Homo sapiens: one gene and its partner. The protein of the gene in region 2 interacts with the protein of the main gene of each other region in a biochemical or structural test. Each region holds a gene or a part of one and is shown on either strand. Other genes may lie near its edges.

What was found.
Region 1: the proteins of VPS33B (region 2) and VIPAS39 form a complex in vitro, tested with the Homo sapiens proteins (one study listed by BioGRID).

Annotation. Positions count from the first base shown.
Region 1 is NC_000014.9:77,436,994-77,440,913, forward strand, and holds part of VIPAS39 (spermatogenesis-defective protein 39 homolog), read right to left. Parts: intron 889-3,920; coding exon 815-888; intron 1-814.
Region 2 is NC_000015.10:91,008,679-91,012,598, forward strand, and holds part of VPS33B (vacuolar protein sorting-associated protein 33B), read right to left. Parts: exon of another isoform or gene 3,756-3,920; intron 2,492-3,755; exon of another isoform or gene 1,876-2,491; intron 1,169-1,875; coding exon 1,123-1,168; exon of another isoform or gene 1,113-1,122; coding exon of another isoform or gene 1,107-1,112; intron 299-1,106; coding exon of another isoform or gene 226-298; intron 1-225. UniProt on the Homo sapiens protein: May play a role in vesicle-mediated protein trafficking to lysosomal compartments and in membrane docking/fusion reactions of late endosomes/lysosomes.

The DNA of each region.
Region 1 (3,920 bases), on a different chromosome or scaffold from region 2:
AGTTACTTCACTATTTTAACTTTTCTCCTTGTTTTCCAGAGGCCATATAACATATCTCAGTATTTGGTAACATTAAATGGATTTCACTGATATAATCAAATTTCTAAACATGAAGCCGGGAAATCATGTCACATGAGGAATGGTTGAAACAACCATGAGTACTGAACCTGAAGAAGCAAGGACTACTGGGTAGACTCTACACCTGTCTTGAAAGATACAGGGAAGCAAATTTCAGCTTAACGTAAGGAAGCACTTTCCAATAACGAAGGTTGTTCAAAAACAAACTGAGCTGTTTCAAGAGCAACGGGCATCCTGTCACAGGAATATGTGGAGCTGGGTTTTGCAATAAGTTAAATTCTGGATGAAAGCTTGCCCTGGATCAGTGGTTCTTGGACTTTGGGGTTTCAAGGACCAGTAACACTGAAAAAATGCATCAGGTCCCTAAAGTATTGCTATCTTTTTATTACCTAAGGTCATAAAAAAAGGTACAGCTCATTTTAGTACCAAAGAAGAAGAGAAGAGTGAGGACAAAATCCTACAATAAAAGATAACCTTTCAAATTAAATAAATTTAGCTTTAGGAAAAAAAATCTCTCTACATTTGTCTTTTTTTTTCCTCAGTTTACCATCAAGCAGTGGAAACTCTGCTGGGGACTAGTGTGTGAACACCACTGCATGAGGTGACCCTGAATGATGCTGGTATGATTCATTGTTAGCCCTCCCCTTCCTGCCTATCCATTCCACCCTTTTTAATTTTCTTCATTCCTTCTGGGTAAAGGTATTTATACTTAAAATCATTTTTCCCCCATACTTACCCAACACAGGTTTTAAGAAATTCTTTTCGTTTGTCAGGGTCCTGAATGTTCAAATGCTCTCGATAATGAGATAGCTACAAAAAGCAGAAAAAGGCTTTGAGGTATTTTGTCTCCTTAGATGAGGGAGATAGCTGATTAACTGAACTTCCCATGCTTTAAAAAAACAAATTCTTCATTTCTGGGTATAGATGGTTATTGGAGGCGGGTGGGGGGATAGGCAAAGAGTGACTAAGTATCATTAGTAGGTTTATCTATAACTGCACTGTACGATACAATAGCCACTAGCTACAACTGTTTCTTTAAATTTAAATTAATTAATGTAAAAATTCACCTCCTTAGTTAACACTAACCACTTTTAAAGAACTCAACAGCTACATGTGACTAGGAGCTACTATATTGGACAACACAAATATGGAAAATTTTTTTTTTTTTTTTTTTGAGACGAAGTCTCACTCTTGTTGCCCAGGCTGGAGTGCAATGGCACAATCTCAGCTCATTGCAACCTCTGCCTCCCAGGTTCAAGCGATTCTCCTGCCTCAGCCTCCCAAGTAGCTGGGATTACAGGTGCCCACCACCATGCCTGGCTAATTTTTGTACTTTTAGTAGAGGCAGGGTTTCACTATGATGGCCAGGCTGGTCTCGAACTCCAGACCTCAGGTGACCTGCCCAACTTGGTCTCCCAGTGTGCTGGGATTACAGGCGTGAGCCACCACGCCCGGCCCAAATATGGAATATTTCTATCATTGTAGAAAGTTCTATTGGCCAGTGCTGACCTATAATGAAGCACTGAGTAGATAGAGTACCAAGCTTTACCTTTAAGTTTCACTTTAGCCTCAGTATTTAACCAAAAATGAATATTTTGCTTCAGCTTTAGATTTTGAAAAGTCCAAGAGCTAAATACCTATTTCAGTGTTATTTTTGGCATCCTTGACCATGTACATGATCAATGGTAGTATGATCATGTAAATATCTAACAATTAACATCAGTAATATAAATAGGGCATGTCATTCTGACTCACTGTTCATAAATATTCTCAGATTGAGCCAACAGATGTATACAAAAATGTAAATGTATATAAAAATGTAAATGTAAAAATGTAAATAACATAAGACAGAATAACAGAAATTACATATCATAATCCAATCTTCGTAAAATAGTTCATATAAAATAGTTGGTATACAATCATTCCTAATATTAAAGAAAGTAACCTTTAAGAGCTATAGTTAATTTTTTGTTATTCAATTCCATTTCATCCTTAGGTCTTTCAAGAAAAGTTCTACATGGGAAACCTTCATATTCTGTGGGCATACACTAAAAGTGTACTATCAGCTTTGCCACTTCCAAAGTTTACAAGGTTGAAAAACTCAAAATCTATATACAACAACATGCATGATAAATCATCTTCAATTCGAACATAATGAGTATAAAGAAAATAAAGTTTTAGATAAAAATGAGTTACCCAAAACACATTTATTCTCACTAATGAAAATCAAAACAAAAAACTTTATAAGAATGCTGTAAGAAGAAAAATCCTTATAGTTTTGAACTTACAGAGATTTAAAAATATAAACAAACAGCTTTTCAAATGATTACTACAGGCTGCCAATCATTTTTAGTTGATTAAGAAAATGGATTTTTCAGATTCTCTCATGCTTTGAATATTAAGTACAAGTTCCTTTCAGAAAACATGTTACTGAGCCAGGTGAGGTGGTTCACATCTGTAATCCCAGAACTTTGGGAGGCCAAGGTGGGAGGATAGCTTGAGGCTAGGAGTTCAAGACCAGCCTGGCAAACAAAGTGAGACCCCCGTCTCTACAAAAAGATTTTTAAAAATTAGTCAGGTGTGGTCGTGTGCACCTGTAGTCCCAGCTACTTGGGAGCCTAAGGCTTGAGCCAGGAATTGAGAGTCTGCAGTAAACTATATGATCACGCACCACTGTACTCCAGCCTGTCTCGAAAAAAAAAAACCATGTTTCTGAAAAGCATTTTCAGTATTATATATATAATTATGCTGTTCAAAGGTTAACAATATTTAATGTGCCAACTGAATGTCTGTATGGATATCACAAATGTGTTGTACAATAACTAAAAAAGCAATCCTGCCATCGACAGTGCTGAGAAATTCTTTGAGACAAGGTCTCATTCTTTCACCCAGACATGACCTCCCAGACTTAAGCGATTCTCCTACCTCAGCTTCCCAGGTAGCTGGGACTACAGGCATGCGCCACCATGCTTTGCTAATTTTTTAAATTTTTTTTTAGAGATGGGATCTCACTATGTTGCCCAGGCTGTTCTCTAACTCCTGGACTCTAGTGTTCCTCCCACCTCAGCCTCCCAAGTGCTGGCATTACAGGCATAAGCTACCGTGCTTGGCTGGAAATTCTTATTCCTGCCAAGTTTTTTTTTTTTTTTTTTAACATGAATTGCTGAAGTTTTAATAATACAACTGAGTTTTTGGTAAAATTTCAGATTTATTCTTGTATTCCAGGAGTTCATTCCATGATTGTGAAAATCTGCCAAAATTTAATCTTAACACCTGGCCATTGAATTCTCAGCCAAAACGTGTATTGGGTGTATCATCAACTTGACCTATCTTCCTTCTTGACCTATATCTGGTTTCTTATCCTCTTAGCCTTCAACATTTTCTTTGTGAGAAGCCAAAACCCCAAAACTCCTAACAACCAGGACCTGAAAACAACCGAAAAACAAATTACAAATTGACCAGGCCAATTTTCACATGTTTATTTTTTAAAATTTATTCATAAGCCCAACCAAAAGAGCATATAAAAAGAAAGAATACATCATTTGGATTAAGTTTTCAGGTTTTCCAGGTGCCTCTCTCTTCTGTATATAATCAATATCAAAGGAAATAGTTCAATCAGTCTGGGATCTTGGAGGCGGGGGTTTGGCTTAGATTTCTGGGTTCGTGAGACAGAGTCTCACTCTGTTGCCCAGGCTGGAGTGCAATGGCACGATCTCAGATCACTGCAACCTCCCCATCCCAGGTTCAAGCAATTCTCCTGCCTCAGCCTCCCAAGTAGCTGGGATTACAGGTGCGTGCCACCACACCCAGCTAATTTTGTATTTTTAGTAGAGACAGGGTTT
Region 2 (3,920 bases):
ACAGTCTAGTGAGGGAGACACACCAGACAAATTATGACACAAACTATTAAATCACGGTTGTGCTCCAAAGAGGTCAAACAGCAAGCTGTGAGCACATATATTAAAGGGATGTAACCACAACTGGGGGTATAGGAAAGACTTCCCTCAAGAAGAGAAAATCAAGCTTAGAATTTGGGTAAGACTCGGGAAGGCAAAAAGCTATAGGGTGGAGAACGTTCTGGGTACCTGGAAAAGCATGGGTAAAGTCTCTCTGGCTGGAGGGTGGCGAGTCAGGAGAAGGAAGCAGCACACGATGAGGCTAATGGGACAGGAGGGGCCAGACTGTGCAAGGGATAGGAGGCATGTTGGGGATTCTGGGCTTTATATTGAGCCGCTGCTATTTCCAGCAGGGAGGGCTGTGATCAGGTTTGGGTTGTGTGGAGAATAGCGGAGGAATACACAGAGGGGAGGCCCAGTTTTTCCTGTGGGAGCCTTGGAAGGTGAGAAAAGAGTGGCTGGTCATTTCCAACTCTAAGCCCTGGTGTTCCTTTCATACTACCCCAGGAGTGTTCTTTTCTTATCCTTTCTTTTCCCTCCCTCCCTCTCTCTCTTTCTCTCTTTTCTTTTATTTTCTTTCTCTCTCTCTTTCTTTCTTCCTTCCTTCCTTTCTCTGAGTCTCACTCTTGTTGCCCAGGCTGGAGTGCAATGGCGTGATCTCGGCTCACTGCAACCTCTGCCTCCCGGGTTCAAGCAATTCTTCTGCCTCAGCCTCCCGAGTAGCTGGGATTACAAGCGTGCGCCATCACGCCCAGCTAATTATTGTATTTTTAGTAGAGATGGGGTTTCACCATGTTGCCCAGGCTGGACTCAAACTCCTGACCTCAGGTGATCCACCCCCTCGGCCTCCCAAAGTGCTGGGATTACAGGCATGAGCCACTGCGCCCAGCCCCCAGTAGTGTTCTAATTCGTGGTCCTATTCCCATTCCCATTCTCAGGAACCTCTCCTCCTGCTACACTAACAGGAATAAGACCAGGAAAAGAAGGAGCTGGTGGTGGGGGTGGGGTGGGGGGGTTGGAGAACAACAACAGTTTTTTCTTCTGTATGTTCTCTTTCCCTTTCCACTCACATTCATCTCCTCTCACCTCCATAGATTCCCTCTTCCTCAAGCACCATCTCACACGCATAGAACTGAAAGAGAAAAGGAAATTGATTAGTAACTACCTTCTTCTCTGTTCTCTCCATTTCTCTGGAGTTCCTCTGTGGTCACTGATGAGGACAATAATTGCCGAACCCAGTGAAAGACAAGAGAACCCAGACTCTTAAGATCTAGAAAGAACCATTAGAATCATTCAGCCCAGCACTTCAGTTCTTTCTCATCCATTTAATTTATGTTTGAGTAAATTGCTTCTTATCTCCCTGAGAGAATGGAAGAGGTTTACAAAGGAGAAGGAGTTCAGCTGTCTTCAAAAGGTAAGTTGTACAGACAGAGATGAGAGCAATGGCATGAAGTGCTCTGGAAATTGTGGAGGAGCAGATGGGAGGAAAAGATCTGTACAAGGGAGAGTGAGTTCTGTTTAGGACATGCCCACGGGACCTTGGGAGACACAGACAAGGACTTGGGATTAAGTAGCATATATGCTGTATTTAAAGTGGATGATGTGGCTGGGTGCACTGGCTCACTCCTATAATCCCAGAACTTTGGAAGGCCGAGGCAGGTGAATCGCTTGAGCCCAGAAGTTCTAGACCAGTCTGGGCAACATAGTGACACCCCATCTCTACAAAACAATGCAAAAATTAGCTGGGCATGGTGGTGTGTGCCTGTAGTCCAGTTACTCAGGAGGCTGAGGTGGGAGGATCACTTGAGCCCAGGAGGTCAAGGCTGCACTGAGCTGAGATTGTGCCACTGCACTCCAGCCTGGGCAACAGAGTGAGGCCCTGTCTCAAATAAATAAATAAAGTAGATGGTCTGTCCAAGAGAAAAGAACACGCAGAGGAGAGCTAAGGACAGGACTCTAGGGAACACAAGATGAAAGGGGGCCAGAGTACAGGACCTGGCAGGGAAGACTGAGAAAGAATACTCAGAGAAGCAGGGGCAGGAGAAAACAGCAACAGTCAAGGCAGGAAAGGTGAGAGTTGCAAGGAAGGGTGGGCAACAGTGTCAAATGCCAGGGAAGTTAAGTAGGATTAACATTAAATAGACACCAGTGGATTTGACAACGGAGACCTGAGGGAGACTAGATGAAACGATGAAGGTGGAGATGAGGAAGCAGAAGCAGTGACAATAGAACATTCTTCACAGAAGCCTGGCCCTGAAAGAAGGGGGAGCTCTGAAAGGGAAAAGAGATGAAATGGGAGACATTGTTTAGAAGGCATAGACATGGGTGAAGGCAGAAGAGAAAGTCTACCTGGTAAAGCAAGATAATGGAGAAGGAAAGCAGAAATGGGGCCAAGAACTGGCATGGAACAGCTCATCTTAGGAGGGAAAAGGCCACGATCTCTTCCTCCTTTGAGGTAAGTGGGGAAAGGGTGAATATTTTAAAGTAATGAGAAAGAATGCTGAGGGCACTCACATCTGATAATGAGTTGACATTATTAACAGCTAATGTTGTAAGCCCTTAAAATGGTTTAGGCATTGTTCTTAGTGTTTTACAGGAATCACTTGTCTTCATCTTCATACTAGCTCTGTGAGATGTAGATCAATGCTACGTGCTCCTTATTTTACTGTTACACAGAAGAATCCTATTCCTCCCTCACTCATTTCTGCCAGGAAAACTGAAATCTTCAGGCCTGCTTTTAACTTTTAATGCTAAGTAATGGAATTCCAGAGCCAGGTCTGAAAACTGCCAATCTTCATAATTAACAAAGGAGTCTCAAAGAAGAGAGAGAGATGCCTCCTAATATAAAATTAGGTCAAAGAATTTGATTAGATAAGGTGTTAAGTGGAGAACACTCATAAAAATAACTATTTTGTTTTTCTGTGTAATAGAGAGGCTTGTAGGATTATTTTAACTTGTAGGATTATTCCCTGTTAATACAAATCTGTCCTTGGCCAGGCGCAGTGGCTCATGCCTGTAATCCTAGCACTCTGGGAGGCAGAGGTGGGCAGATTGCCTGAGCTCAGGAATTTGAGACCAGCTTGGGCAATATGGCAAAACCCCACCTCTTTTAAAAATATAAAAAATTAGCCACGCACGGTGGTGCACATCTGTAGTCCCAGCTACTCGGGAAGCTGAGGCAGGAGAATTGCTTGAACCTGGGAGGCGGAGGTTGCAGTGAGTCGAGATTGCGGCACTGCACTCCAGTCTGGGTGACAGAGCAATGCACTGTCTCCAAAAACAAAACAAAACAAAACAAAACAAAACAAGACAAGACAAAACACCAAAGCTGTCCTTGGAAGCATAATTTGAAAAGAAAAAAAAAAAAAAGGTTTGTAAGAGTCCAAGAACTAGAAATTATTGCCATGACTCCTTTAGTAACATTCAAAAGTACCTATAATTCTGAGTGGTTGTCCTACTCAATAATTTCTTGCCCTGGTAATAATACTTCACGTTTGTATTCCTAAGCATATTATCCTAAGATAAATATTTGTAAGATTGTGCTATCAATGTTCAGGTGACATTCAAAGGAAGGTCACTGGCTCTTTCCTCTTATTCCTTTTACAGAAGGAGAAAACAATATAAGCCTAGGGTCCCACTTGATTTCTTATTTCAACAGAGACTCAAAGTCATCTCACTTAAATTAAAAGATAAGTACTATTATCAACTCTATCTTCCAGATGAGAAAACCGAGACACGGAGCAGCTCAGTACCTAACCCAAGACCACACAGGTAATAAGGCCTCAAGGGTGGATTTTATCCAGACAGCCTGGTTTCAGAGGCTTCAGTCCTTAGTTACTGCCTCTATTTTCTCTAGAATTTTCTTAGAAAGATTGAAAAGGAAT